7 linked regions of the Homo sapiens genome follow. The protein of the gene in region 1 purifies or fractionates together with the protein of each later gene. This does not show direct contact. Each region holds a gene or a part of one and is shown in the gene's direction. Other genes may lie near its edges.

The links.
Region 2: the proteins of STK39 (region 1) and EIF4E purify together in Homo sapiens (co-immunoprecipitation; one large-scale study listed by IntAct). This does not show direct contact.
Region 3: the proteins of STK39 (region 1) and ARMC6 purify together in Homo sapiens (co-immunoprecipitation; one large-scale study listed by IntAct). This does not show direct contact.
Region 4: the proteins of STK39 (region 1) and CD46 purify together in Homo sapiens (co-immunoprecipitation; one study listed by IntAct). This does not show direct contact.
Region 5: the proteins of STK39 (region 1) and NUBP1 fractionate together in Homo sapiens (co-fractionation; one large-scale study listed by BioGRID). This does not show direct contact.
Region 6: the proteins of STK39 (region 1) and XPNPEP1 fractionate together in Homo sapiens (co-fractionation; one large-scale study listed by BioGRID). This does not show direct contact.
Region 7: the proteins of STK39 (region 1) and API5 fractionate together in Homo sapiens (co-fractionation; one large-scale study listed by BioGRID). This does not show direct contact.

The regions. Positions count from the first base shown.
Region 1 is NC_000002.12:168,237,157-168,241,476, reverse strand, and holds part of STK39 (STE20/SPS1-related proline-alanine-rich protein kinase), read left to right. Parts: intron 1-4,320. UniProt on the Homo sapiens protein: Effector serine/threonine-protein kinase component of the WNK-SPAK/OSR1 kinase cascade, which is involved in various processes, such as ion transport, response to hypertonic stress and blood pressure.
Region 2 is NC_000004.12:98,883,769-98,888,088, reverse strand, and holds part of EIF4E (eukaryotic translation initiation factor 4E), read left to right. Parts: intron 1-136; coding exon 137-200; intron 201-896; coding exon 897-1,010; intron 1,011-1,542; coding exon of another isoform or gene 1,543-1,635; intron 1,636-3,027; coding exon 3,028-3,167; intron 3,168-4,320. UniProt on the Homo sapiens protein: Acts in the cytoplasm to initiate and regulate protein synthesis and is required in the nucleus for export of a subset of mRNAs from the nucleus to the cytoplasm which promotes processes such as RNA capping, processing and splicing.
Region 3 is NC_000019.10:19,039,873-19,044,192, forward strand, and holds part of ARMC6 (armadillo repeat-containing protein 6), read left to right. Parts: intron 1-2,813; exon of another isoform or gene 2,814-2,838; coding exon 2,839-3,005; intron 3,006-4,119; coding exon 4,120-4,202; intron 4,203-4,320.
Region 4 is NC_000001.11:207,786,073-207,790,392, forward strand, and holds part of CD46 (membrane cofactor protein isoform 3 precursor), read left to right. Parts: intron 1-4,180; coding exon 4,181-4,232; 3' UTR 4,233-4,273; exon of another isoform or gene 4,274-4,289; intron 4,290-4,320. UniProt on the Homo sapiens protein: Acts as a cofactor for complement factor I, a serine protease which protects autologous cells against complement-mediated injury by cleaving C3b and C4b deposited on host tissue.
Region 5 is NC_000016.10:10,760,383-10,764,702, forward strand, and holds part of NUBP1 (cytosolic Fe-S cluster assembly factor NUBP1), read left to right. Parts: intron 1-529; exon of another isoform or gene 530-981; coding exon 982-1,092; exon of another isoform or gene 1,093-1,186; intron 1,187-1,374; coding exon 1,375-1,477; coding exon of another isoform or gene 1,478-1,481; intron 1,482-2,134; exon of another isoform or gene 2,135-4,320. UniProt on the Homo sapiens protein: Component of the cytosolic iron-sulfur (Fe/S) protein assembly (CIA) machinery. Required for maturation of extramitochondrial Fe-S proteins.
Region 6 is NC_000010.11:109,885,510-109,889,829, reverse strand, and holds part of XPNPEP1 (xaa-Pro aminopeptidase 1), read left to right. Parts: intron 1-1,234; coding exon 1,235-1,327; intron 1,328-1,637; coding exon 1,638-1,781; intron 1,782-3,488; coding exon 3,489-3,584; intron 3,585-4,320. UniProt on the Homo sapiens protein: Metalloaminopeptidase that catalyzes the removal of a penultimate prolyl residue from the N-termini of peptides, such as Arg-Pro-Pro. Contributes to the degradation of bradykinin.
Region 7 is NC_000011.10:43,317,887-43,322,206, forward strand, and holds part of API5 (apoptosis inhibitor 5), read left to right. Parts: intron 1-534; exon of another isoform or gene 535-596; intron 597-753; coding exon 754-915; intron 916-2,934; coding exon 2,935-3,028; intron 3,029-3,524; coding exon 3,525-3,590; intron 3,591-4,098; coding exon 4,099-4,250; intron 4,251-4,320. UniProt on the Homo sapiens protein: Antiapoptotic factor that may have a role in protein assembly. Negatively regulates ACIN1. By binding to ACIN1, it suppresses ACIN1 cleavage from CASP3 and ACIN1-mediated DNA fragmentation. Also known to efficiently suppress E2F1-induced apoptosis.

The DNA.
Region 1 (4,320 bases):
TTTAGGTGCCAAATGGCCCTCTGACAAGTGATGAGAGCATCCTGCGGGAAGGTTGCTGAAGAGGAGCAGCCCATTATGAGAGGGCTCCGAGAACAACCTGCTAGGACTGCACTTTTCCTCCACCTCTGAGTTTGCCCGGAGGCTGCCATGCTGGCAGGAAATGCTGCTGACTAAAAGAAACGCTCCCTGTGTGTCCCAGCCAGTGCGAGGACAGAGGCCTTCATTTTCAGATAAAGTCATCACCATTGCTTCCCTGTCTCCTTCTTTCCCTCTTTGCTTTTCCCTCAGTTTATAAATATTCTCAAGCCTGTCTCTTATGTTTAAATGACAAAAGAGAACAAAACAAAACACTCTCCCTACTTCTTTCTCCTCTGGCTACTCGGTTATCTCGTTTCTTCCTTTCACTGCTAAATTGTTGGAAGGAACCTCCCATTCCCTCTCAGCCCACTGCAGTCTGGCTTCTGCCCTTTCCCTAAGAAACCCAAGTTACTCTCTGAAATCACTGTGACTCTTCTGTGGCCAGAGCCAGTGGACACTGCAGTCCTTTTCTCTGCTCTCTGCAGGGTTAGGTGCCATCTTTCATTCTCCTTTTGGAAAGGCATTTGCTTGAGCTTCCATGCCATGCCTTCCTTCTGGACTTCCTGTACTCCCTTGCCTGCCCCAGATCCACATCTCTGTCTGTCTGAAGCTTCAATTACCACATCAAATGCTGAGGGTCTTCCTGACTGTATACCAGTGTTTGGACTACCTTTTTAATGTCTTCGTTTGAATGTTTCACAGGAACTTCATACAGTTAAACTCATTGTCTCTCCACCCTGGCCTCAGTCCTAATCTTGTTTCTTCTATATTCATCATCTTTAGAGCCCTCAAGGGCAAAACCTGCTGGCCATCCTATACTTTCCTGTCTTTGTCCATCTCTCACATCTGTTTGGTCACCAAGTCCTAAATACTCCACCTCCTTGAGATCTTCTTTGATTTGACTCTGACTCTTCATGTCAGCCACCACTGGTTTAGTTCAGGCCCTTATCGATTCTTATTTGGATTATTGTAATAATTTCCTAACCAGGTTCCTTTTTTCCATTCTTGTTTCTGGCTGTAGTGTGCATTGCTACCAGAAAGATACTGCTATACCAAAATTCTTGATCACGTTGCTCCCAGGCTGAAATGCCTTTAGTAGCTCTCCCGTCACCCTCAAGACTTAATTTGAAGCACAGTGTTTAAGGTCTTTTGGGAATTGTCTCTTGCCTCCCTTTTCAGCCACATCTTGTAATTTCCAGTCTCAGGACAGACTCTCCAGCCAGTGGGAACCTTTTGCAGTTGCTGAAATGCCTCTTCTAGGCAAGATTTCCCTCTGCTTGGAACACCATTCCAAGACCCTTCCCTTCCATTTTTCATCTATGTAGCAAAGAGCTCTGTCTTTTCTTTTAAATATTGCCCTTATTGAAGTATAATATGCATGTGGAAAAGTGTACATATAAAAAATGTATATCTTGGTGCATGTTCATGAATTGAACACACCATGTAACCAGCACCCTGACTGGGCCTCTCTTCTCATACCCTGAACAAGTGATTTCTTGTCACACAAACAATCTCTGCCTCTAGAGCCCCCCTCCCCCCTTGCCCTTCAGGCTCTGTTGGGTCTTTCGCTCCCTGGCAGTTGTCACACTATCTGCAAATTGTATTTTCCTTGCCAGCCTGGCTCTAGACTGTTAAGTCTTCCTTGAGGACAGGGTCTCTCATCTCCCTACCCTGCATGTCATAATAGATATTTAATAAATGTTTTCTGGATGAAGTTCTGAGTTTTGGGGATAAATACTCCTTCCTCACCTTGTGGAGGAGGAACATTGCCTGACGTCTAAAAATTTGCCTCACTGGATCCTGAGGATTTGATCTTGCCCGTGGTTAATGATGGGGTTTATTTAGTTGCGTTTGGGCCAATCAGCTTAAAGGGCTCTGTAGAAATTAGCTCATTAATCCTCACAGATCAAGAGTAAGCACTTTGAGTGCGTCCACCTGCCTGTGTTGTGGAGGTAGGCAGGCAGAGGCCTGGCTCTCCTGAGGTCTTAGGACTGAGAGGTGGCCTTTCTGGCTGGATTAAAGGACCCAGAGCTCCCTGCCACAGTTCTGGCATCCGTAGACATTGTAGGGTGGAGTGGGGAAGTCCCACACTGCCCTTCAAAAGCTCTAGAGCTTTCTTTTCTTTTGTATATCAGTGATCTCTCTCTCTTGCTGTTCATGTATTTATATATAACACTCACCTTGAAGTTCTGTGGAGCCTCTTCCTGTGTAGGAATCAGGGCTGCTGGAGACGATCAGGGATGCAGGTGAAACACAGGAGCAGAATTGCAGAACAAGTGGCTTTCAAAGGTTGTTAGGATGGCAGGAGTTCTATTTTTATAACTTATAAGGGACTGACATGATAGGATGGCTGTGGTACCTGCTAAGACCATAGAACCGGGTCATTCTAATAGATGTTATAATTCCTTTACAGTGTACTTTTTGGGAAAGTTTTTTTTTCCTATTTAAATAAAATTCTCCATGTAATCATGTGAAGTCATACGTTTTCCTCTAGGATAGTTGTGTTTAGATTATACCAAAACAGCTCTTAGTTGAAGTGATTCAAGTGTTTCTTTTTTCCCTATCTGCCATCAATTGGCCAAGTTTTTGATACTAGACAAGAATTCAATATATTAATTAAAAAGTCATTTCAGACTTGGCTTAACTGAAAAGCAGAAGAGAAAAATCCTTTAGAGAATGGATTGGCATACTTTATTTCTAGAGTCGATTTAGATAAATACTTTGGAATCCGATGTGAGTAAATGATATGTTTCACATTTCTTCTCACTTGCCAAACAGTTATTTGAGAATAAACTCTGGCTTAGCTTTAAGAAACTTCTTGGACATTGAGGATTGAGATTAATTGACCTTTTAAACTGATTGTGTATTTTGATATATGGGAAAACATTTTAAGATAGAAATGGTAGAGACCTCTACATTCATATTATCCCTGACTTTATTTTCAAACTTCTTCCAGGTAAGTGGCATTTAGTATAACTCTCAGAAGCCTAGTATTGGGGGTGCTCATGTGATTCTTCCCTTAGGTAAAAAATATACATTTTATTGACATTTATGGGTTTAGGTTTCTAACTTTTAGTTACCACTGGAGCTATTTGTCAGAAAAAACTAGATGGAAAGTAGAGGTGGATGACTTTCTGCCCTGTGAATGATAGATCTTCATTCAGGGAGTATTTTGGAGCCAGTGACCTGTGACAGTTGTGAGACTTCTCATAATCATTCTGTGGATGGTTGGGGTCTTAGAAGAAGTAATGATTTTGTTTTGAACTGGTTGCATCAGTTTGAACCAGAGTTTGTACTAAGGGTATTCCAACTGCTTTATTTCCTACTCTGTTTAGTCTGGGGATTGAAAAAGGATTACATTTTGGGTAGGTTGGTGCCTATTGACCTATCCTGTGTAGCTTAGATTTTAATTTGAATCATCTGGTTCTCTTTCTTTCTCTCAGGCAATGTCACTATCTCTGTTTGTTTAATTATGGGGTGACTCAAGAAAGCAAAGGAAGAGGAGCAGCAGACGGGGTTTCCTGGGGAAGGAATGGCAGGTCATGGCTGGTTTTTATAAGTGAGTTCCTAAGTGAGAAGTGGTACAAGAATATAGAGAGAATTAGGAAATTTAATTTTAGAAGAGACCAAAGGAAAAAAAATCCATCCCAGCTGCTTTGTCTTGTAACTGAAAACTCTCTAATGGCCAAAGTTGAAGAAACTTGCCTATGGTCCCAAAGTCCTTAGAATCCCAGGCTCCAACCCTTCATGCTAAAAACTCTCAATAAATTAGGTATTGATGGGACGTATCTCAAAATAATAAGAGCTATCTATGACAGACCCACAGCCAATATCATACTGAATGGGCAAAAACTGGAAGCATTCCCTTTGAAAACTGGCACAAGACAGGGATGCACTCTCTCACCACTCCTATTCAACATAGTGTTGGAAGTTCTGGCCAGGGCAATCAGGCAGGAGAAGGAAATAAAGGGTATTCAGTTAGGAAAAGAGGAAGTCAAATTGTCCCTGTTTGCAGATGACATGACTGTGTATCTAGAAAACCCCATTGTCTCAGCCCAAAATCTCCTTAAGCTGATAGGCAACTTCAGCAAAGTCTCAGGATACAAAATCAATGTGCAAAAATCACAAGCATTCTTATACACCAATAACAGACAAACAGAGAGCCAAATCATGAGTGAACTCCATCCACAATTGCTTCAAAGAGAATAAAATACCTAGGAATCCAGCTTACAAGGGATGTGA
Region 2 (4,320 bases), on another chromosome or scaffold:
TTGACTCCTTAGAAACAAGTAAACATGAACTTTTATCTGTTTATTTTCATCATATGTTCTAAATGTATATATATGTAAGCACCTAAACTCTATATTACATATTCTGTGTTTTTAATTGTTATTTTCTTTTACCTAGTCTGTACAACCATATCCAGTTGTCTAGTAATTTAATGCCTGGCTGTGACTACTCACTTTTTAAGGTATGCTTAATTGGTGATTTTATATATTTATTATAGGACTGGGCCATTTGGTATTCATTAAGAAATCTTACCATAAACTTAGGAATATTTGATAGTGTGATGAATAGGCTGATAATTTAATTGGCTGTAGTATGCTTTAGTATCAATATATCTTATTCTATTTGTTTATAAAAATTGAGAGAGAGTTACTCTGTGGGCACATACTGAGATTGATTTTGATGAGAGCTTTGATTATCCAGTCTACTCCTTCCTTTATATATTTGAGCAGACTGAGTTTATCAAGCATTCTTAACCTTAGGAGCATGGGTCCTTGGAATACTTATTATTGGGCTTTGTCAGTTGGTAGAGGGACGGGACATTCATTAACTGAAATTGCATAGTTTTTGCATGTATTTTCTAGCTGTAGAAATGTACAGAGCTTCTAAAATATGTTTGCTTCTCAGAAAGTTTAAGAACCTTCAAATTAAGTGAAACCCAAGATTTGATAGCTAATAAGTGACAAAGCCAGGACTCTAATTCTGCAATGTCATGCCTCTGGCTTTAAGTCTTATGTGCTGTTTAAAAACTACATCAATGGCAGTTTTATGGGCAATAAAGTAAGAAGTTGACAGTGTTGTTGCTTAACTGTTTCTAATGATTATCTCTCAAAGTCAAGGTAACAATGTTGTGTAATACTGTTGTCTTCTAACCCTGTAGGATGGTATTGAGCCTATGTGGGAAGATGAGAAAAACAAACGGGGAGGACGATGGCTAATTACATTGAACAAACAGCAGAGACGAAGTGACCTCGATCGCTTTTGGCTAGAGACAGTAAGGTTTTAAAAGTATAAAGCAGTTTTAGAGGTAGTTTTGGAATACTGATACTTAAGATATGTTATGTTTTACATTTGTTACTTAATTTAAGAGAAGGATGCCCAACACTAGAAAATCAGGGTCAGTAATTATTTTTGTTCTGTCATATGACTCCTGTTTATAGTACAGTGAAACATCCTACCACATTATAAGTCAGATATTTTAAGTGATTGGCAGTTGACTCTCACCACAGTAAGCTCACTGTGGTCATTTCATTAACCTCAAAATTATAGAACCTTACATTTTGTATGATTGAAGTTTTTGCAACCCTCTTACAGCATTGCTATATGTATACTAAACTTTTAAATACTTATATTTTTAGAGCGAGGGTCTTGCTCTGTTGCCCAGGCTGGAGTGCGGATATTTATTTATATGGCTCATTTCAGCCTCACCCTCTGGGTTCAAGTGATCCTCCCACTTCAGCCTCTTAAGTAGCTGGGACTACAGGTGCATGCCACCATGCCCAGCTAATTTTCTAATTTTTTTCCAGAGATGGGATCTTGCTATGTTGCCCAGGTTGGTCTCAAACTTCTGGCCTCAAGTGATCCTCCCACTTCAGCCTCCCAAAGTGCTGGAATTACAGGTGTGAGTCACTGTGCCTGTCCCACTAAACTTTTTAGATTAGTGAAGCAAATAATAAAATTGTTGTGTACTACCATTTGACCTACATGTTGTGATATTAACTGGAACTTCTGGCTTTACAAGACAAATTAAATATGAGATAATAAGCATTTTCTGTAGACAGAGGTTCCAAACCCCAAGCTTATAGGAGCGGGGTTTGTAGTCTCTTTTGTATCCCTAGCACTTGAAACCGTGCCTGGTTTATAGTTAGCACTTGTTAAGTTAATCACTTTAAATGTTTGAATAAGTGACTATTTTGCTTTTTTTTAGAGACAGGGTCTTGTTCTGTCGCCCAGGCTAGAGTGCAGTGGGGCCATCATAGCTCACTGTAGCCTCCTGGGTTCAAGCAATCATCCTGCCTTAGCCTCTCAAGTAGCTGGGACTACAGGTGCATGCCAGCACAGCCAGCTAATGAATGAATGACTTTTTAAGAAGAAAATTCTGTTTTTGAGGGGGAAGATCATGAGCAAATACCATTTTTGAATTCCACATTAAAAAGTCAGGACATTTCCATTTTGCAGTTAAAAAAAATCTTCTGGAGATGGATGGTAGTAGGGATGGTTGTACAACAATGTTGAATGTACTTAACACCACTGAACTGTACACTTAAAGGTGGTTAAAATGGTAAATTTTATGTTATTTGTATTTTACCACAATTAAGAAATCTGTTAGGGCTGGGCTCACACCTGTGATCTCAACACTTCAGGAGGCTGAGGCAGGCATTTCACTTAAACTCAGGAGTTCAAGACCAGTTTGGGCAACATGGCAAAACCCTGTCTCTACAAAAAATACAAAAATTAACTGGGTATGGTGACATGTCCCTGTATGTATGCCCACCTACTCAGGAGGCTGAGGTGGAAGGATCATTTGAGCCCAGGAGGTTGAGGCTGCAGTGAGCTGTGATGATCCCACTGCACTCCAGCCAGGGTGACAGAGCAAGACCCTGTCTCAAACAACAACAACAACAAAAAACCAGACCATTAACAAATATTCATAAAAAATAAGAACAAGAGGAGATTAACCATGAATAGCTATTTTTATTATTCTATTAATATTTGTTTGCTCATAAATATAAGCAGCAGCAGAGCAAATGAATATTAATAAAATCAGCTTTTATGTCTGCCATGACATTAACTGCCAAATTTGCTGAAAAAGGCTGATTTGATAGTAAATAAATGAATGAGTATTTAAAAGTCAGGACAGATCAATATATGCAAATAAAATTTACACATTTAAAAAATTAACTCTTGATTTAAAAACTGCCTTTAGTTTCTATGCAAATACAGAAGAGACATTTGCAGTGTAATGAGCTTGTTTATAATCTATTAAATGTAATTTGGGATTTTTTTTTAAGCTTCTGTGCCTTATTGGAGAATCTTTTGATGACTACAGTGATGATGTATGTGGCGCTGTTGTTAATGTTAGAGCTAAAGGTGATAAGATAGCAATATGGACTACTGAATGTGAAAACAGAGAAGCTGTTACACATATAGGGTAAGTTTTGCTCTTTGCCTACTTATTTTACAGTATTAAGATGAGTAAAACCAGAAGTTATTTTATTTGTAGCTTTAGAAATACTTCAGTTTGTAGATCCTGTTTTCCTTGTATTGTTTTCGTGAACACTTTTATAATTTTGAACGGCTCAATTGGTGCGCAACGTCTTGTTTTTTTGGGTTTTTTCACAGCTATTTATTTATTTATTTATTTAGAGATAGAGTCTCACTCTGTTGTCCAGGCTATATATAGTACAGTGGCATGATCTAGGCTCACTGCAACCTCCGCCTCCCGGGTTCAGGAGATTGTTATGTCTCAGCCTCCCGAGTAGCTGGGAATACAGGCGCATGCCACCATGCTTGGGTAATTTTTATATTTTTAGTAGAGACCAGGTTTTGCCACGTTGGCCAGGCTGGTCTTTTAACTTTTGGTCTCAAGTGATCCGTCCACCTCAGCCTCCCAAAGTGCTATCATTACAGGCATGAGCCACTGCGCCTGGCCTTTTTCATATGTTTTTTATTTCTGTAAAATTGCTTTTTCTTAGCAGTGAAGTATATAACCACTAGAGCACTCTCCTTTGGCATGTAGCATTTTTTATTCATTCACAAATGAGAATGTATTATTTCCTACTTTGAAAGTGCTGTTTGGAAAAAAGTACTACTTTGAAAAGAGCTAATGTATGCTCATAATAATAATTCAGTGATTATTGGCAAATAGTATATGTGCATTTAAAGCATGTGTGTTTACTACGTATAATTTTCATTAAAATTTATATAACATATCTTGGTTTTTGTTCCATGTTTAAAACCCACATATGTAGGGTTTTATTAAACCTTTTTTTGTAAATTTTATTCTTTGCAAAAGTGGCTTTTTTTTTTTTTTTGAGACAGGGTCTCACTGTGTTATTCAGGCAAGAGTGCAGTGGTGCAGTCATGGCTCACTTCAGCCTCAACCTCCTGGGCTCAGGTGATACTCCTACCTCAGCCACCCAATTAGCTGCAACTACAGGTGTGTATGACCACACCTGGCTATTTTCTTGTATTTTTTGTAGAGAAGAGGTTTTGCCATGTTGCCCAGACTGGTCATGAACTCCTGGACTTGATCAAGCCACCTCAGCCTTTCAAAGTGCTGAGATTACAGGCGTGAGCCACCA
Region 3 (4,320 bases), on another chromosome or scaffold:
CCTAGTAGGGATTTTGCAGATCACATCCCCATGGTGTTGGTTAAGGTGTCAGAGCTGTGCTGTGCAATACCATAGTCACTCGTCACACATGGCTATTTACATTAACAAATTAAAATGAAATAAAATTACACACTCAGTTCCTCAGCCACACTGCCACACTTCAGCTGTGTGATAGCCACAGAGGCCAATGGCTTCTGTACTAGGCAGTGCAGATAGAGAACGTTTCATCATAGCAGGAAGTGCCCTGAATGCATGATCAGATTCGGGTTTGAGATTTTGGCACGATGACTTCACAGGTGCATTTTGTTCTTGTTCAGGAGGTAGGTGTTGCTGGTTTCTCTTGATGATGTGAGATCAAGCAGTAGACTGAGTTCCTGTCTACCCCTTGTTGGGCTCCCATCAGTTTTACACCTGATGGTTTTGGATCCTGTGGGATCATTATCTGTTTCTCTCCTGTCACAGCTGATCAGCTGGAATCGGAAGCAGAACTTTTCCTCATCCTCTTTTTATAACCTGGGACTCATTTGTACAAGGGAGGCAGGTTAAGTGCTAGGTTTTTTTTAAAAAAATTGTTACTAATTATTGTAGAGACAGTGTCTCGCTACGTTGGCCAGGCTGGTCTTGAACTCCTGGATTCAAGTGATCCTCCCATCTCAGCCTCCTGAGTAGTAGCTGGGAGTACAAGAGCATGCCACCACTCCCTGCCAAGAGCTGGATTCTTGGCCAGTTTTCAGAAGCCTGAGCTGTATTTGTTTTAGTATTATGAAAGCACAGAGTTTGACTTTTTTTTTTTTTTGCAACATCGTCTGACTGTCAGCCAGGCTGGAGTGCAATGGCATGATCTCGGCTCACTGCAACCTCCGCCTCTGTGCTCAAGTGGTTCTCCTACCTCGGTCTCCCTGATTGCTGGGATTACAGACGTGAGCCACCACACCTGGCCCAGATTTTGATTTTGATATGTACTGGATTTTTTTTTAATGCTCACTTGTCTCATCTGTAGCTACCAGGCATCCCTTAGGGTTTGGAAGCTTCCTTGCTTCCTGGTCTCACAAGACCCCAGCGTTACCTGCCCCATGACCTGCTGGGACTTGGAATCAGCCATTCCTCCAGAAGCCCTGGCTCCTTGTTTTTAAAGATTTTATGTAGAGACAGGGCCTCCCCATGTTGTCCAGGCTAGTGTTGAACTCCTGGCCTCAAGCCATCTTCCTGCCTCAGCCTCCCAAAGTGCTGGGATTACAGGAGTGAGCCACCTAGCCCTGGCCCCAGCTCCTTTTCGTGGGAAATGGTAGAAACCATACATGGTGTTAGAGGTATTCAGTGCTCCTGTGCTGTCATTTCTCCTAGGCATTTTTAGTTGCTATGACTAGAAAATTAGATCTTTGTTTACCTAAGAGAAAACACATGATGGGTTTATATGGATATTCCCATTTCATATATAGGAGTTCTGAGATTTTTTTTCTCAACTTTATCGAGGTATAGGATGTACTTTTTTTTGAGACGGAATCTTGCTCTGTTGCCCAGGCTGGTGTGCAGTGGTGCAATCTCGGCTCACTGCAACCTCTGCCTCCTGGGTTCAAATGATTCTCCTGCCTCAGCCTCCCGAGTGGCTGGGATCACAGGTGCCCGCCACCATGCCCGGTTAATTTTTGTATTTTTAGCAGAGATGGGATTTCACCATGCTGGCCAGGCTGGTCTTAAACTCCTGACCTCAGGTCATCCACCTGCCTCGGCCTCCCAAAGTGTTGGGATTACAGGCATGCGCCACTGCACCCAGCGAATTGTATTTAATATAGTGTATATCTTATACTATATATGGTACATAAATGATACAAATATATTGCATATGTTTACATTATACAACTTGACGATTTTATATGCATGCAGATTGTGAAATACTCACCTCAATCAACAGTTACCTTTTTCTTTTTTGTGGTGAGAACACTTAGAATCTACCCTCTTAGCAAATTTCAAGTATACCATACAATATTGTTAATTATAGGGAGTTCCGAGTTTTTAGTTGATAGTACGATGTTAGAATCTTTTTTTTTTCTTTTTGAGTCAGGGGCTTGCTCTGTTGCCCAGGTTGGAGTGCAGTGGCGCAATCTTGGCCTCCCAGGCTCAAGCGATCCTGCTACCTCAGCCTCCTGAGTAGTTGGGACTACAGGCATGTGCCACCACACTCAGCTAATTTTTATTTTTATTTTGGTAGAGACAGACTTTTGCCATGTTGTCCAGGCTGGTCTTGAACTCCTGGGCTCAAGCAATCCTCCTGCCTCAGCTTCCCAAAGTGTTGGGATTATAGGCATTGACCCACTGCGCCCAGCCAGAATCTTTTTTCTTTTATTCTGATTCCTAATAAGATAATCATTATTATTTGCTACATCCGTAATAGTTTCAGAATAACATTACTAGTATCATTATATTAAAGAACCACCTTTCTTAGATAAAATGTAGTAAACTCTGTGTTCTCTCCTACACTTTGTTTTTTTTTCCCAAGACAGGGTCTCACTCTGTGGCCCAGGCTGGAGTGTAGTAGTGTGATCATGGCTCACTGCAGCCTTGACCTCCCAGGCTCAAGTGATCCTCCCACCTCGGCCTCTCAGAGTGCCGGGATTACAGGCTAAGCCATCACACCCGGCCTCTTCTGTATTTGCAGAAGTTCTAGGGAAGTAGGGATATCACCCTTTCCTGTGATAACAGGTGGGAAGAATTTCTCCAGGGTGGTTGTAGGGCTCTGGTCGCTGGTAGATGCTTCCTAAGTGGCGTTTTCAAGGTGGCCAGGCCCTGCCATTGCCTGCTCACCCTTGAGGTAGCTCTCTCTTTGCCCTAACCTCTCAGCTCAGGAGCATCTATCGGCTGCACGCCAACATCAACACAGGCGAAGATGGTCTCCAAGCGCATTGCCCAGGAGACCTTTGATGCAGCTGTGCGCGAGAACATCGAGGAGTTTGCGATGGGGCCAGAGGAGGCAGTGAAAGAGGCCGTGGAGCAGTTTGAATCGCAAGGTAGGGTGGTGTGACTGTCACCTACCATCCTTGGCTCTTAGATGCAAGAGCAGTGGGAGAGCCCTGCTGCCCCGCCCCACTGGGGGTGCCACATGCCTGGCATAGAAACCAGGTGCCATTGGGCCCTGTCCCCTCCAGCTTCTGCCCGAGGCAGGCTGGTTATCCTGCTCCCACCTCTCACCTGCTTCCACCTCGCCCAGATATTTGTGGGCTGGATCCTTCTCATGAGTCTCATTTGATCACTTCCTTGAAGAGACTTTCCCTGACCCTGGCCTGGGAAACAGGGCCCCTGCCTCCCTGCCCTACTCTACCCTACCTCGAGCTTACAGAGGCAGAAGCAGCCTGTGGAAACAGGTGGCATGTTCAGACCAGGTGCAGATGAGTGTGGTTATGAGGGGCTGTTTGCAATGGTGTGGGTGGGGTTAGGAGACCACCCCTAGCACAACTAGCTCCGGCAGAGACCCTGACTGCAGGGAGCAGGAGTCCTGGGCAGGGGCCACATGATGGGTGCTGGGCCCTGGGGCAGAGGCAGGGGGCTGGGAATGAACACCCCACACTCCCCTCCTCCTGCCCCCATCTCAAGTTCACTTCCCCATTGAACAAACCCAGGGTACAGCCTGAGAGGTCAGAGGTCAGCCTCCTAGGCACAGAGTGGGGTATAGAACACTAGACAGGGGCCAGTGGGACAAGCAAAAGCGTCCAGCACTGTAGGGGCTCCCTGTGGGGGTGCCAGCAGGGGCAAGAATGCAGCCAGAGCCAGGAGGGATGGGAGCCCCAAGGGAGAAGGCTGTGGGGTCCCTCCCTCCCCCACCAAGCCCACCAGGCAGCATGTGGCACCTCACTGCACAGACGTGGCCTGTGATGACAGCCTTGTGTGACAACGGCCTCACTACCACTCTGCTCCCTTTGGCCCACGGACCAGTGGCAGAAACACCCAATACCCTCTACACCCCCGTGATGATGTGGCATGGGCGGGAATAGGGAGGTGGGAGGCTTCTGGAGTGGGGTGGTCCCAGCAGAAGGGTCCTGAGGTGTGATTCCAGCAGGCCCACGGGGATGACAGCTGTCACTTTCTTTCTGACCCCTGTGTGCTTGCTTCCCCCACCCCCAACAGGGGTTGATCTGAGCAACATTGTAAAGACGGCACCTAAAGTCTCTGCAGACGGATCCCAGGAGCCCACACATGACATCCTGCAGGTAGGAGTGGGCATCCCACACAGCAGGTCCTGCGTCACCTCTGTCTGGGGGCACCTCTTCCCTGTTTCCTGGATGGCAGAATACAGGCTCTGAAGGTCATGCCCTCCCCAGCATGCAT
Region 4 (4,320 bases), on another chromosome or scaffold:
TTCACTGGAATTTTTATAATGAAAGTTTCCACTTGTCTATATAGCTTAGCTAGTTGCAAGAAGCTATGTAGGCATATCATTTAAATACCCAATTTGGTGTCTTTTCATTTAAAGTTGTTATTTATACATGTTAAACTGGGGGATTCAAAACAACACTATCCGATTTCCCTCTTATGTTCTCTGAATTTACCAGATTGCAGTAAAACTGATAGGGTTAAAGTTAAAATTGCTGAGAGGGGTTAGATCTATAAGGTACCTCAATTAACTGTGTCTTTTAATATATAAAAATGTAAAAAGTGAGTGGGTTTAGAATAGAAGAAAAATGTACAAGTACATATCTTCTAAAGAAAATAGGGTTTTAAAACATCAAACTCAAATTTTAGTTAAAGAGCTTACAGTTTAACAAAAGACTTAGAATGAATCCTGGAACACAGACTAAGATTAGGTGCTTTGAAATTTCTGAAAGATAATATACATTCATTTTTACTGATTTTTAAAAACTGTTTTCCCCTATAGTTTTAGAAATAGCTTTGAAATCAAACCTAATAATTTTAAGACTTTTGGTACTCATGGTTTTATGATATATATTCCTTTTATACTGATCATCAGGTTTGGGCTAAGTCATAAAAGTACAAGCTTTACTCATAAGGAACTCAAACTTTTTTCATATTACTTGGTTATCTTTTGAAATACCCATAATCCCTTCACTTGAATCTTAAATCTTGTATTAATGGAACACGATATGCATATTTGATTTATCTATCAGTTGTATATTCTAAAAGTTACATATCTACAACGTGAGTACAAAATATTATCAATGGAATATTTTTACAAATCCATAAGGTTTGCGTAGAAACAAGTTCTAAAGAAAACAAAACAAAGTCGCATTCTGCTTATTTTCCTTCTTTGTTTAAAATATCACTGCATCAGAATTTTTAAAGGTTCATTAACAAGTATTAATCAAACTCTCTCTAGCTAGCAGTTAATGGTTTTTCTGTTGTTGTTTTTTGCTTTTTTGTGATGGAGTCTTGCTCTGTCACCCAGGCTGGAGTGCAATGGCGCAATCTTGGCTCGCTGCAACCTTGGCCTCCTGGGTTCAAGGGATTCTCTGCCTCAGCCTCACGAGTAGCTGGGATTACAGTCGTGCACCACCACCACCGGCTAATTTGTTGTACCTGTACTAGAGATGGGGTTTCACCATGTTGGTCAGGCTGGTCTTGAACTCCTGACCTCAGGTAATCCGCCCACCTCGGCCTCCCAAGGTGCTAGGATTACAGGCATGAGCCACCGCGCCCGGCCTTAATGGGTCTTTTAAAGCTCAACAGTTATCTGACTGTTACACTCCCAAATGAAAGGTTCAATAGCAGTAGTGAACTGAGATTCCAAAATTAATTTGTCCAGTGATTTTTTTTTAAAGCCCATATTTTACAGCATAGGGTCCAACTGACAGTTGCCATTATTAAAATTTTAAAATATTTTGGGAAGGTATGATATCTTTAGCCAATGCAACATAATTAATCCTGCAAATAGTAGCACAACTTGAGGAAAAATAGTCCAGAAAATGGTGTGAGAGACGAAACTCCTAATTGCCTTTGAACTTTAAAATATAAACTGCGTGGGAATCTTTTAGAATAGATGTTACCCTTTTTATGACAGGAACATACTCGATTGGAAATTCAGCATATGTAATGGCTGAATCCAAAGCTAGGCTCTCTTTATGGATCTATTATTTTGTAGTTCCATGTTATTTTGATAGCTGAACTGAATGTGAGGGTGGTTTATCTTTCTTCTTCAGAGTCTAGAGGAATGTTTCTCTGACTTTAATGTGCACATTAGTCACCTGGAAATCTGTTAAAGTACAGATTCTGATTCATTGGGTTTGGGGTGGAGCCTGAGACCCTGCCTGTCTAGTGAGCTCCCAGTGCTGATGCTGCTGCTGTGCCTGGGCTACACTGACCAGGGTGTTGCCCACTACTGATGTGCCTATATTGTTGAAGTCTGAAGAAACACTATGAAGCTTATTGGCAAATTTTTCTAATATTTAAGATAATTGAAGTTTTTAAGATTCCTCATCCATGTGTATCCTTAAAAAAAGGCTATGGGGTAATAAATAGTACTTGGCTTTTCTTACCTTCTTTAACTCTTAAAAAACAAAGATTTCCAGCCGGGCCTGGTGGCTCACGCCTGTAATCCCAGCACTTTGGGAGGCCGAGGCGGGCAGATCACGAGGTCAGGAGATCAAGACCATCCTGGCTAACACGGTGAAACCCCGTCTCTACTAAAAATACAAAAAAAAAAAAAAAAAAATAGTGGCGGGCGCCTGTAGTCCCAGCTACTCTGGGAGGCTGAGGCAGGAGAATGGCGTGAACCCCGGAGGCGGAGCTTGCAGTGAGCGAGATTGCGCCACTGCACTCCAGCCTGGGTGACGGAGTGAGACTCCATCTCAAAAACAAAAAACACAAAAAAACCCCAAAGATTTCCATTATTTTCTTTGCACTGTTTAATGTCCATAATCTTGTCCCCCCAGATTGGCTGTTGTGGCCTTAGAAACTTCTTATAAAGACTATAAAATGTCTGGAGGCACTTCTCCACTTCCGGGGGTAACTGGAAGCAGGCTAGCAGGCACAAATAATCTCAAATTGTTGTTAAAGCCTGGCACAAAATGTATTTCTTGTAAACTGGTATTTATGGTGATTTGGGAACGTAATTACTCTTCTGCAGCCTTCATCTCAAAATACAAAAATAGTGTAAGGAGTCATTTTAAGATCATCCAACATCATTTACATTACTTGATAAAAAGTGGGCAAAAGGTTAAAGTATTCTGCCACTTTTCTGTTTCATAGCTCTCAGCTGAGAACAGTATAGGATACCAGTGGGTCCGAAACAGGTCCCATCCACATGCTCCCTCCTTTTCCCTTCCCATTTCCTTTCTTTACTAATTCTTCTACCATACTTTTTAGTCTTGGAAGCCACAGCCCTGTCTTTGCTACTGCTTCAGTCCTGTATTGCATGGCATGACTGTGCTTCTGAACAACAGATGCCTTTTGTTTACATAAATATTTAAGTAATGGTTTTTTTTAAATGCATGATTATTTTTTAACTCTAGTTAAGCATCCCTGGATAAGTGACAGTTTGGCTAAGTTAGTGAAAGTTATTTACATAATTTATATATTTATTACCTGTGACAAATAGTTTTTCCTTTTTTCCATTAATGGTATTTATTATTTTGTATAACCTAAACTGACTTTTAATGTTACATTAATATTGACTGACCCAATTACTTTATTAAAAATAGTGGTCAGTTCAGGTAATTGGGGCATATAGTGACATGGGGCAAAAAAAGGATCAAATTAACTTAAATGTTTTTCTAGTTGGCCCTTAAATTCTTGAGCATTTAACCCTTCAAAAATTTTTGAGCAACTACAAAAATGTTTTGTAATTAGTTTAGAAAGCATCCTTACAAAATTAGATCCATCTCAGAAATATGAGACGCCATGTAATACAAAGTTTTGCAACGATGTCTCCTCAGGTTGAAAACAGATGTGCCACAGGAAGACACTTCTTAATGTAAAAGTCCAGAGACATCTGAAAATACATGATGTCATAAAGTTGATTTCTAGATAATATTACATGGATTTGATACATACTCAATGTATTCCCTCAAAATTGAGGGTGTTAGGCCGGGTTTGGTGGCTCACGCCTGTAATCCCAGCAACTTTGTGAGGCCGAGGCAGGCCGATGGCTTGAGCTCAGGAGTTTGAGATCAGCCTGGGCAACATAGTGAGATGCTGTGTCTTGAAAAAAAAAAAAAAAAAAAAAAAAAAAATCAAGAGTGCTAGAGACCGGTACCATTTCTCCCCAACAATCTGTTATTCCTTGAAAACATTTTGACATGAATCACTTCATGCAAAATGGCTTCAAAGATAAACATATTAAACAGGAATTTCCAGTCTGTTTATCTGCTGGATGATCTATATGACTTCAAAGTTCAAGTAGCTTCTAGCACAAAATTCATGTTTCCAGTCCTTCAGTGAGAATGAGAAAGTCTTAAGTTATGAACCTAATTCTCAGCTTTCCTGCTACTCTCTTACACTGGATTTTATCCCACTTGTTATGCTACTCGTTTCTTTTTGGTTTGAAGTCACTATTTTATTCAGCCGTTTTCTCTTCCTCTGTTCAGCACATACCTAACTGATGAGACCCACAGAGAAGTAAAATTTACTTCTCTCTGAGAAGGAGAGATGAGAGAAAGGTTTGCTTTTATCATTAAAAGGTATCTGTTTTCTGTTGTTTATTTTCAGATGTCCTTTCTTTTGAAAA
Region 5 (4,320 bases), on another chromosome or scaffold:
CTAGAAAACAGTGCACACACTGGCTTAATATAGTATAGTATAGGGACATGGAGCATGTAGATGCGTTAAAAGGTCATTTTCAGATAGGCACAGTGGCTCACGCCTCTAACCCTAACACTCTGGGAGGCCGAGGCAGGAGGATCACTTCACACCAGAAGCTTAAGACCAGTCTGGGCAACAACCATCTCTATAAAAAATTAAAAAGTTAGCCAGGCAGAGTAGCACATGCCTGTAGTCCCAGCTACTCTGGAGGCTGAGGCAGGAGGATTGCCTGAGCCCAGGAGGTCAAGGCTGCAGTGAGCAATGATTATGCCACTGCACTCCAGACTGGGCAGCAGTGAGATCCTGTCTCTAAAAAAAAAAGTCATTTTCTTTTAGGTTGATTTCTTGCTATTTGGCTGTGTGGGAAGTAAATAGCACCTCGAACAAACAGGGCTTAGCACTAGTAGGTACTAAATAAATATGGATTTGGCAGAGGGCATACATTAGTTCATTTTCACACTGCTGTAAAGAACTGCCTGAGACTGGGTAACCTATAAGGGAAAGAGGTTTCATTGATTCACAGTTCTGCATGGCTGGGAAGGCCCCAGGAAACTTAACAATCATGGTGGAAGGCAAAGCAGGCACATGTTACACAGTGGCAGCAGTGAGAGAGAGAGTGTGTAGGAGGAACTGTCAAACACTTACAAAACCATCAGATCTCGTGAAAACTCACTATCGAGACCAGCATGGGGGAAACTGCCCCCATGATCCAATCACCTCCCACCAGGAACTGCCTGTTCCTGTAGGGATGTAGGGATGATGGGGATTACAGTTCGAGCTGAGATTTGGATGGGGACACAGAGCCAAACCCTATCAGGGCAGAAACCTCTAAGGCTTTATGATCGCAGATCCACTGCATTGCAGCCATCCCCTCGGTTGCACAGACATTCCCTTTCTCGCACTTTGATGCTGGAATCACTGGTCTTTTCACCTTCGTAGGAGGTGTCACTCCAGGATGTCCGGAAAGAAATCAACTTCTGCCGCAAGGTGAAGCTGCCCATCATCGGGGTGGTGGAGAACATGAGTGGCTTCATCTGTCCTAAGTGCAAGGTGAGGGCGCGTGGGGCTGCCAGGCGAGCAAGATCTTGCTCTCATGGATGAGGAAACGATCGGAAGGCTGCTCTGCAAACTATTTCTGCTTTCCCTGTCATTTTGGGAAGTGGAATCACAATTAAAATCCCTTTCTGCTGACTAAAGGAAAGTTCTTTAGGTGTTAAGGGTTCCACATTCAAACTAAGCCTTTTTTTTTTTTTTAAGTTTCTTTAAAATGTGGTCCATCCTTGTGATTCTGCAAAAAAATTATGTTTCCTCCCCTTTGAATTTGCCTTGCAGAAAGAATCTCAGATATTCCCTCCCACAACCGGGGGCGCGGAGCTCATGTGCCAGGACTTGGAGGTCCCTCTCCTCGGCAGAGTGCCCCTGGATCCGCTCATAGGTGGGTGACCCCAGTGTGGGGCGGCACCTCACTCCTCGGTCAGCCCCACAGGCACGGGTCGGGCACAACAGGGGGCGGCTACAGAGAGGGGCAATGGAAGGAGGAGGGTCAATGGGGCGCTGGAGCCAGACCCACCCTCCAGCTGGCACCCCAAGAGGCCACCGGGAGAGAGGCCGAGACCCCTGCGGGCAGGTAGCGGGAGCAAGCAGGCCTCAGGCAGAGGGGTGAGGCCTGGAAGAATGGGGTAGAGGTTGGTGAGGGTGGTGGTGGCAGGGGACTGAGGAGGGCACCCGATAGAGGGGCGGCTCCAGGGGATGCACATGGCGTCCAGGTTACAGAGGAAGGCGGCCTGAGGTGAAAATCCCTTAGGAAGGGGCCGGGCCTCCTGTGCCCGGAGAAGCCAGCACGGCACAGATGAGGCCCCTTTGTCTCCAGCACCGGGACAGACCGGAACGCGGATCACTGGCCTGCGAGCAGGGGCCAAGTTCCCAAAAAATGCTCTTCTTAAGTACGTGGGTCTCCCAGGATCCCAAGAGATGCCCACTCCCTGAGTGGCCCTGAGGCTGAAGGAGGGACGGGGTTTCACGTCTCCACCCACACGCCCGCCGGGCGCCCACTCGCCGCGGGGCGCTGGGCAGGGCCTACACTCGAAGCTGCTCCCCCAGGAGGCTGCTGTCCCCCAGGACCGCGGAGCCGGGCGGGCCTCCGTTACTGGGGCCCTTTAGTGGGGCTCCTGCGGGGCGTCCAGCACTCGCCTTTAGGTCTGAGGGGAGAACAGAGAGAGAAGGCTGGAGGGGAGGCCGGGATCCAGGAGTGCCGGCTGCACCCATGCCTCGGAACTTCCACTCCATTTGTCAGGGAACCAAGGCCAGTGTGAGGTGTCTGTGCCGGGACAGGAGAGAGGGGCCGGGCGGGTGAAGTATGGCCTGGCCAGGAGAGGGTGGGGGCCGCGTGCTTGGGGAGAGGGCGGGGCCCGTGGAGAGCCTGGAGGCGGGGAGGGCGGAGGCCACGTGGGGAGCCTTGGGGAAGGGCTGCATGGGGAGAATGGGAGCCTGTGGGAAACGACTGTCAGTGTCATGTGCCTGGGAACAGGAGGCTCAGGAGTGGCTGCCCTGGGATAGGGGTTCAGGATGAGGCCCTGGGTTCTGGCGTTGGTGTAGAAAGGAAGGGACACACACAAGAGAGAAAGTGACGGCATCTGAGGGTCAAGGTTGTCCCTGCTGCCAGTACAAGTCACCTGGAGGAGGGTCCGTCCCTCAGAGACAGTGAAGCAGGGGTGGTAGAGGGAGGCCGGGCCCTCTGGGGTGCTGCGGCTAAGGGGCTCGGGGGCTCAGGTTGTCAGCAGGTTCTGGGGTCCGTCAGGAGAAGGTGGTTCATGTCCGTGCAGTTGAGTTTTGAAGCCACAGGACATGGACAGGATTGCCAAGGGGCCGTGCAGAAAGCGGGAGCCAGGAGGACAGTGTTGGGGGATGGCTGCCTCGAGGAAGTGGTAGGGGGGTAGGGTGCGAGGGCCACTCTGAAGATGGGAACAGCCCGGGAGAACGCCAGAGACCCCATGTGCCCAGGAGGCTGTGTCCCCAAATCCTTTTTCCCTTATTCCCACATCCCACAATACTTCTCTGGCATGTGATTTCCCCAACAACATGCAGAAAAGTACAGCTGCTTTCTCAACCTTCCCCAGCATCATAAAACACTCACCAGGCAGCTTTTGCAGTGGCCGGAAGTGGTGATGAGAGCTGCCCTCTGAGGCCCCTGGAGGCAGTTGGGCTGCATGAATGGATGTGATTGGGGACAGGAGCTTGCAGCAGCCCAGGGCACATCCATTCCTGCCAGCCTGCACCTCTGCCACAGTTCAGCTCTGCCGAGATGGGATTGGTGGGCAGGACGTTTGTCAGGGGAAACATCTGTGGGAGAAAATGACAAGGGAGAGCGTTAGCCCACGATGAAGGAGTGGGGGAAGGAACATATCAGCCCGAAAGAGCATCACGGCCCATAGGAGTATCTCAGCCCCTGGAAGCATCTCAGCCCAAGGGAGCATCCCAGCCCTCAAGAGCATCTCAGCCCATGGGAGCATCCCAGCCCAAGGGAGTATCTCAGCCCACAGGAGTATCTCAGGCCACGGGAGCATCCCAACTCAAAGGAGCATCTCAGCCCACAGGAGTACCTCAGCCCATGGGAGCATCCCAGCCCAAAGGAGCATCTCAGCCCACTGGAGCATCCCAGCCCAAGGGAGTATCTCAGCCCACAGGAGTATCTCAGCCCACGGGAGCATCCCAACTCAAAGGAGCATCTCAGCCCACAGGAGTATCTCAGCCCACGGGAGCATCCCAGCCCGAAGGAGCGTCTCAGCCCACTGGAGCATCTCAGCCCATGGGAGCATCTTAGCCTGCTGGAGCACCTCAGTGTACTTTGCTTTTTGGCATCTCAGTCTGCTGGAGTATTTGTCTATTGGAGCATCTCAGTCTGCTGGAGTGTGGCAGTCTATTGGAGCATCTCAGTCTGCTGGAGTATGCCAGTCTGTTGGAGCATCTCAGTCTGCTGGAGTATTTGTCTATTGGAGAATCTCAGTCTGCTGGAGTATGCCAGTGTGTTGGAGCATCTCAGTCTGCTGGAGTATGTCAGTCTATTGGAGCATCTCAGTCTGCTGGAGTATTTGTCTATTGGAGCATCTCATTCTGCTGGAGTATTTGTCTATTGGAGCATCTCAGTCTGCTGGAGTATGTCAGTCTATTGGAGCATCTCAGTCTGCTGGAGTATGTCAGTCTATTGGAGCATCTCAGTCTGCTGGAGTATGTCAGTCTATTGGAGCATCTCAGTCTGCTGGAGTAGGTCTATTGGAGCAT
Region 6 (4,320 bases), on another chromosome or scaffold:
GCACTTCCCTTCTATGGTTATGTGGTTGTATCAGTAGTCAGTAGAGAAAATAGTAAAGATAAGTTTCTACTGTTTTAGAATATGTGAACTTTTACTCTAAATATATGTATATTTTATCAAGATGTTAATTGTTTGGCCAAAACCTCATTGGTTAAAAAAAGTATACATTTCAAAGATAACTGGCTAGATATGGAAGGTGTTGGCTTAGATTAAAGGAAAACTGGACTATAGAAGTAATTTTAGTTCTATTCTGGAGGCTGATATAGTGTCCTATGACTAGCGTCTTAGAAACAGAAAGGGCTGTCTCATCCTGGGAGTTGGGGAACCCAGAGGCTCATGTTAAAGGCAACAGGATGGCCAGCACTTTGGGAGGCTGAGGTGGGAGGATCACTTGAGGCCAGGAGTTCAAGACCAACCTGGCTAACATGGTGAAACCCCGTCTTTACTAAAAATACAGAATTAACTGGGCATGGTAATTTTGAGCCTGTAATCCCAGCTACTTGGGAGGCTGAGGCAGGAGAATTGCTTGAATCCAGGTGGTGGAGGTTGCAGTGAGCTGAGATGGTGCCACCGCACTCTAGCCTGCATAACAGAGTGAGACTCTGTCTTCAGAAGTAAATAAATAAATAAAGACAACCGGACAGGTGCCTGTGTGCCTCTCTTAAAATCTTCGGAAAGATCTCTTTGCTGCCAAGACTTGTGCTTAGCCCTCTATTCAGAGGCTGGTTATGGGGCAGCGGCCTTCTCTTGGCCACCCTGCCCTTGCAGATGAGGGGCGGGCACTGGGAGCATGTTATCACCTTACCTGGTATGTGATATGTGGGAGTCTCCCAGTTCCCAGACTTCACCAAATCACTGCCCAAATTCTCATCAAGTGACCAGTAGTGGGGAAGTGACTGAACGCTGAGGAGACAATCTTTGTGGTGACGCCATGTGTGTACGTGGCAGTGATCCCCAAGATATTTTTACAAGGGGTCAAGTGAAAAATCATACTTTTTTCCCTTCTGTCTCACCCTTGTCTTATGTTTTTCATACACAAAAACTTACACTTCTCCCTCTCTGTAGCCTTCCAGGATTAAGGGAGGTTCAGATTTTCTAAGTCCTGTCAATCCACTTTAAAGAAGCTGCTTAATAAAGACCCTGCTATCATGATGTTAGAGAATTGTATCTTTCTGGTGGGATAATGAGCGTGGGCCCACTGGGAATTGTTTCTTATCATTTCTTCCCCCTGTAGGTCTGAAGGACACACCAACTCAGGAAGACTGGCTGGTGAGTGTGCTTCCTGAAGGATCCAGGGTTGGTGTGGACCCCTTGATCATTCCTACAGGTAAGTGAGCTTGGTCCCTTTCTGCTTGGGTAAGGAAGTGGCTTCTAGATTCCCCTCCATTCTCCTCATTTGCTTGTGGGGTGTGGAGCACTGGGGGGCTCAGCATGACTGATTTTATAGTAGAGGTCAGGGTGAAGAGAAGAGTTCCACTGGTGGTGAAGATGTGCTTTTACAGTTCCTCATCCTGCACACCCAGCTCTGGGCCATGGCAGGACCACCTTTCTGAAGGTTCTGGACTTTCAAGGCCCTGCTCCCTGCCCTGCTGCAATGGGCGTTCGGCTCATGGCTGGGCCACAATGTGTCTCCTCAGATTATTGGAAGAAAATGGCCAAAGTTCTGAGAAGTGCCGGCCATCACCTCATTCCTGTCAAGGAGAACCTCGTTGACAAAATCTGGACAGACCGTCCTGAGCGCCCTTGCAAGCCTCTCCTCACACTGGGCCTGGATTACACAGGTCAGAATCAATGGTTCTGCCCAGCAGGGCCCCTGCCATTGTCCCCCCACCTCTTGCTATTGTCTCCAGCCTCGTCCTCCGAATCCAAGTCGAGTTGGAGCTGACAGGAGGATTTTGCCCTACTCTGCCCCAGTGGGATATTTGAAGAAGCAGGAGCTTTGTTTGTTTCCACTGTTGCCACCTACTTGCCACTTAGTTTGGCTTTGGTTATTTTCGCAAAGCTCGTTTGGGTGGCTTTTTGGGTGCTGCTGAAAAGACTGAGTTTTTTTTATCCACTCAGCTGCTAACTGCCACTCGAACGTATTTGATATTGGAAATAGAGCATAGAGGTTTCTAGGTTCCATTTCCCTTCTTATGTCAGCATTTGTAGATTTACCTTCCTAGGCCTTTGTCCTCCATCTTGTACCTTCTGCTTTAGAGGCTTTGGGGTGTGGGTGTGTTTCCTTGGCCTGTGCGATAGTGATGGGTAAGCAGCATGTTCTCTGAACCATTGTGTGGATTTATGAAGCAGTGAGGGGGCAGAGAGAGAGGCCTGGAGGTGGGGCTGCAGGGGAGGGCGTCTTGCTGTAGAAACAGAGGTAGATGGGGGATGGCTGTGGAATGTAGGCAGATTGCCCAGAGGGGTCCTGGGAAGAAAGCGTGACAGCCTAGATTCTGGGCCAAGTTTTAAACAGCATTCCCGAACTGATCTTCAGTGCAGCCCTGGGTGTGGGGGCAGCCCCAGCCTGCTTTCTTGTGTGACATCCTCACCAGAGGGGTATTGCGGAATGGGGAGGATGGGTCCAGTGAGTGGCCCAGGGTCAGCTAAATATTTTCCATCAGCGTGGTTTGAAGTTTTTTTCACTAGAGCAGAAGCTCTGACTTGTTGCTTATAGGAGAGGGGAGAGCAAATGTTGCTGTTCAGTACACATTTGGGTGCCTACTATCTGCAGGATGCTGTGCGAGGTGCTGAGTGAATAAGACAGATGCCCACCCTGCTCACAGGTGGCTGTTCCCTGAGTTATGAATGCTGCCCTGGTAGGGTGGTTGTGGTGGCAATGGGGTGAGCTCCTCTAGCACCACGATTTCATCTTGCAGAGCAACAGAGAGGCCTTGGCAGTGTCTGAAAGGGCAAGTGTGATTTGGAAGTGGTAATCACAGTGAGTCAGACTACAGGGAATTCCTAGGTCTTAGCACTGAAAGGCAAGTCTTGCAGCCCCCAGGAACATCAAGTGGTGGGTGCTGTTCCCCTGACCCCTGAGACTGGGTGAGTTCCCTTTGCTGGGTAGTGTGTTGATATAGGTCCCTGTGTGTCCCCTGTTGCATCAGTATTTACAGTAGTGTGTTAATTGCTGGTTTAATTATCTGTCTTCCCTTCTATATTGTAAGCCCCATGAAGACAGGGACTGGGTCTGGCTCAGATCTGTAACCACAGTGACCAGCAGAGTGCCTGGCACGTATCTATGCCTGGCAGATCTAGATGTTACACAGGCATTTGTGGGATGCGTAAATGAATGAATTTTACTGGTGAGGCAATCAAGGCTCACGACAGTCAAGTGGCTTGGACACTTCTTGTATAGGGCTTGAATCCAGGCCTCCTGCCTGTTTAAGTAGCGTGCTCCTGTAAGAAATGGTGCTGATTAAAGATGTTTAGGGTAGGTTCTTTCACTGGGTTCCTACTGCTTTCTGGGACCAGGGCTGGAGTTAAAGCACATTTGTTTCTTGCAGGCATCTCCTGGAAGGACAAGGTTGCAGACCTTCGGTTGAAAATGGCTGAGAGGAACGTCATGTGGTTTGTGGTCACTGCCTTGGATGAGATTGCGTGTGAGTGCTCTGGTTTCGCTGTTTGGGCATGTTACCCGATCTCTCCTTTGGGTCTCTGGGTATCTGTGTGTTCATGCCATTCAACTTTCTGAGTGGCCAGGGAATAAGAAGAAGACTACGTCACCAAATGGGTATAGGAGATGCCAACTAGGATGAAGGAGAAAGAATTACAGGGAGCTGGGGAGGGGAGTGAGGCTTGTCCAGAGCAGTATTACAGCTGGGTGATGCCCACCTCTGGCCAGTCCCTCAGGACCATGGCACCTCTGAGGAAGGGCATTTCCTACAAATATTTTATGTCTGTCAGCCTCTGTAGGTGTAGAAGTGGGCTCATAGGAGAGGCCTTCTTTCTTTACACTTGTCCTGTGGTTTCCTAAGGTCTTTATAGTGAGAATGTTCTGGGAGCATTTCTACCTCAGAAAACTAGGAACTAAAAGTTCCTCCCCAAGCCCTTTGATGTAATAGTAGTTTCTCAGTCTTTGGACCTTAACCCACCTTCATGCAGTTGTTCAGCACCTTCTTTCATCTAAAACCTGACGGAATCTGGTTGAACCTTCCTGTCCTGTCTTCTGGTTTCTGAGTGGATTTGACCCAGGGCAACTGAGAAGAGGCACTGCTTTATCTTTTTGCCTTCTCACTAGAGAATGAGACCCTACTGCAGTGTCCTCTCTCTTCAGTCCCTGCATCTTCCATCCACAAAACATTGTCAAGTGTGTCAGTGACTTACATCCCTAATTAA
Region 7 (4,320 bases), on another chromosome or scaffold:
GGCTGGTCTGGAACTCCTGAGCTCAAGTGATTGCCCACCTCGGCCTCCCAAAGTGTTGAGATTACAGGCATGAGCCACCACACCTGGCCATCATTACAATTGTTTTGTTTGTTTGTTTGTTTTGTTTTGTTTTGTTTTTTGGAGACAGAGTCTCACTCTGTCATCCAGGCTGGAGTGCAGTAGTACGATCTCAGCTCACTGCAACCTCCGCTTCCCGGACTCAAGCAATTCTCCTGCCTCAGCCTCCCGAGTAGCCGGGATTACAGGCGCACACCACCACGCCTGGCTAATTTTTGTGTTTTAGTAGAGACGGGGTTTAACCATGTTGGCCAAGCTAGTCTTGAACTCCTGACCTCAGGTGATCCACCCACCTTGGCCTCCCAAGGTGCTGGGATTACAGGCGTGAGCCACCACGCCTGGCCCATTACAAATTTTTTAAGCATGATACAGTCACATGGCCAGAGTTAATAATCACTAGAATGAAGAAGTATTGGCATATTAACAAACACATTTGCTTTTTCCACTTAAAATTAGACTCATCCATCTCCCCCAACTCAAAAATGAAACAAAGATGGAGGGAGAACGGAATTGGGAAGGTAAGTGTCAGTTTGAGCAGTAAACCTCCCAAAATCAGCTTTATTTCTTAGCCTGTGTAAAAATTTAAAGCACACTCTAACATGTTTGTTATGGTCTTTTACTTTGCTTCCCATCCTTCAAAATCATGTGTCTTTCCTGCTTTATTTTTTATTTCAGCATAAAGATGCCTATCAAGTGATATTGGATGGTGTGAAAGGTGGTACTAAGGAAAAGCGATTAGCAGCTCAATTTATTCCGAAATTCTTTAAGCATTTTCCAGAATTGGCTGATTCTGCTATCAATGCACAGTTAGACCTCTGTGAGGATGAAGATGTATCTGTAAGTTTATGAATGACACTTCATAGCAATCTTTCAGATGTTTCTGTATGTGGCTGATACAATTGGAGTAGCAATCTGATATATCAGAGTACACAATAAAATACTATGGTATGGTCTGGCATGGCATCACACCCAGGCTTAAATTTACATATGATAAAGTGTATTAGCCTTTTTCAACACCTTTAAATTATGAAAAATGCATAGAATCTCAAAATACTTAGTTTCGCTTATCATTTATCCACTGTTAAAAATGGGTTGTGGCTCACATCTTGTTTCATAGATTGTTATTCATTGTGCATATGAAATTAGACTGTTTTTAATCAATTTGTGCTTACTTGGATATTTAAATTATTAAGTGTTATATCATAAAATGTAGTTTCACTACCCTTATATATTTTGCATGGCAGAAAAATGGTATGTGTAATAAGTGAATAGGATTACTAGATTAAAAAGAAATAGTTTTTGTTTTTTGGTTTTTGGGGGGTTTTTTGGAACAGAATTAACCAGTAATATTTCTGGCTGCTGACACAGGTTCCTAAGAATATTCAGCCGTTAGCTCTTGTCTTTTCAGATGAAACAGCGAATTGCCAACATTTCATGCAGAATTTGCTGGATATAAACCCTATACTTTTTTTGCTTTTTTAATAGAAACAGGGTTTCACTCTGTTGCCTAGACCAGAGTGCAGTTGCACATCCATAGCTCACTGCAGCCTTGAACTCCTGGGTTCATGCATTTTTTTCCACTTTAGCCTCCCAAGCAGCACAGACCACCGTTCCCAGCTGATTTTTAATTTTTTTGTAGGGTCTTGCCATGTTGTCCAGGCTGGTCTCAAACTCCTGGCCTCAAGCTATCCTCCCACCTTGGCCTTCTGAAGCATTGGGATTACAGGCGTGAGCCACCTCATCTGGCCCGCTGTACATATTTTATGTAAAAATCGAATAAGCCAAGATCAGTATTTGGAATTAAACATGCAGAATATAGCCACAAATGTTGTATTTAGTAGTCAATACTGAAAATTCTAAAGTAAACAGTTACTAGGTATAACATTGCCACAGTAGCCATTTTTTAGGAATACTATATTATAAGCCCATAGGTAGTAAAAACCTAACAGTTGCATATAATTAGCATGTAAATAGTTGTTTATAATCTCAAATCTGTCTCCTTCAGCGAGACATTGTTAACATCCCTTTTTATATTTTATTCTGTGTAACTTGAAGATTAAATTGGAGCAAATTCTCTCTTTTTTTTTTTTTTTTTTTTTGAGAAGGAGCCTTACTCTATTGGCCAGGCTGGAGTGCGGTGGTGCAATCTTGGCTCACTGCAACCTCCGCCTCCCTGGTTCAAGCGATTCTTCTGTCTTAGCCTCCCAAGTAGCTGGGACTATAGGCGTGTGCCACCACGCCTGGCTAATTTTTGTATTTTTAGTACGGACAGGGTTTCACCATATTGGCAAGGCTGGTCTCAAACTCCTGACCTCGTGATCCACCTGCTTCAGCCTCCCAAAGTGCTGGGATTACAGGTGTGAGCCACCACGCCCGGCCAATTGGAGCAAATTCTTTTTAAAACTGCTAGAAATCTGCTGTTTCATATTTTTGTGACTCGTATGCCCCTAATGATGGCTTCTCTGTGGTTTTAGTTTTCTTAAAAAGTTGAGTTTGCAGCTGGGCATGGTGACTCATGCCTGTAATCCCAACACTTTGGGAGGCTGAGGTGGGAAGATCACTTGAGCCCAGTAGTTCGAGAACAGCCTGGGCAACATAGGGAAATCCGCCTTTAAAATTAGCCAGGCGTGGAGGCTTGCGTCTATAGTCCTAGCTACTAGGGAGGCTAAGGCAAGAGGCTCTCTTGAGCCTAGAAGGTCAAGGCTACATTGAGCCATGGTTGCACCACTGCACTCCAACCTGGGCAACAGAGCAATACCTTGTCTTTAAAAAAAAAAAAAAGAAAGAAAAGAAAAAGCTGTTTGTTATTTTAAAGGTGATAGTATTTGGTTAATTTTTGTTTGAAATCATGCCCAGATTCGACGTCAAGCAATTAAAGAACTGCCTCAATTTGCCACTGGAGAAAATCTTCCTCGAGTGGCAGATATACTAACGCAACTTTTGCAGACAGGTAAGGGATTTTATTATTACCTTTTTCTCTAAATATATATCTTCTTTCTGAAATGTTGACTCTGTTTTTAGGTTTTAAATGGGGTGCAGGAGAGCTGGAGGTCCTACCTCTGATAGAGATTAAATTTCCTACTTTCATTCAGTAGTTAAAGTGTAATGATTTCTGGTTATCTAATTCCTGGTGTTGTTTTGTTTTTAATTCCGTTATGAAGGTGTAATGACTAGATTCTTTTGGGCATTTTGATATATCATAATTTTTCCCCCAATTTCCTGTAGTTTCATAATTGTAGCATCTTAATAAAAGTTTTTCAGGCATGCCAGATCGGGTTCTCAACTTACAAGGAACACGTATCTTTTTGGTACTTGAGGGAATGGCTTAAGTTATAAGTTTCCTGTCAATGTAACCTTGAGAAACTAAGTTGAATCAAGTTTGAAACTGAAGCAGATGATATTTTAAATTTGTTTTATATTCATTATGCCACTTTTTCTTTATCCAGATGACTCTGCAGAATTTAACCTAGTGAACAATGCCCTATTAAGTATATTTAAAATGGATGCAAAAGGTAAGGCCAGTTCTTATTCTGAATTGTGTTTGATGTCTTACAGAATCACAAAGTTAGGTGTTACTCATTAAGAATAAACTCTAGGGTTTACCCAGAGTTCTATTTCATAAAAATTCTAAGTATTGTGAAAAAAGTCTCCTTAGGTCAAGATGTTTATGACTAGAAAAACGAGCAGAAATAACTGCAAAAACAGATCACGTTTTTCCATTAGAAATCTGTTGGAAGAACTCCTTTTGACACTTTCAAGAAATTCTTCCAAAATACCTGGGTTTTATTATTAGTAATGATAAAAAAGGAAAGTCATGCTTAAGCTGACTATGTCTTCATGAAGAAAGCACTCTTATGGTTCAGGCTGTAGAAATTTCAGACTACTTTTAACTAGTAATGAGGATGATATTTGGGAAGTTCATTAACTTATTTGAGAAGAAATACTATAAATTGAGTTAAATGGGAAAACACCATTACACTATAGAATTGACTTGCTACAGGCAACTATTTTGTTTTGCAGGGACTTTAGGTGGGTTGTTCAGCCAAATACTTCAAGGAGAGGACATTGTTAGAGAACGAGCAATTAAATTCCTTTCTACAAAACTTAAGACTTTACCAGATGAAGTCTTAACAAAGGAAGTGGAAGAGCTTATACTAACTGAATCCAAAAAGGTGAGCTTTGGTCTTCATTTGGTGGAAATTCTCTAAAGCAAAAGAGCATACTTGACATTGGCAGTATTCG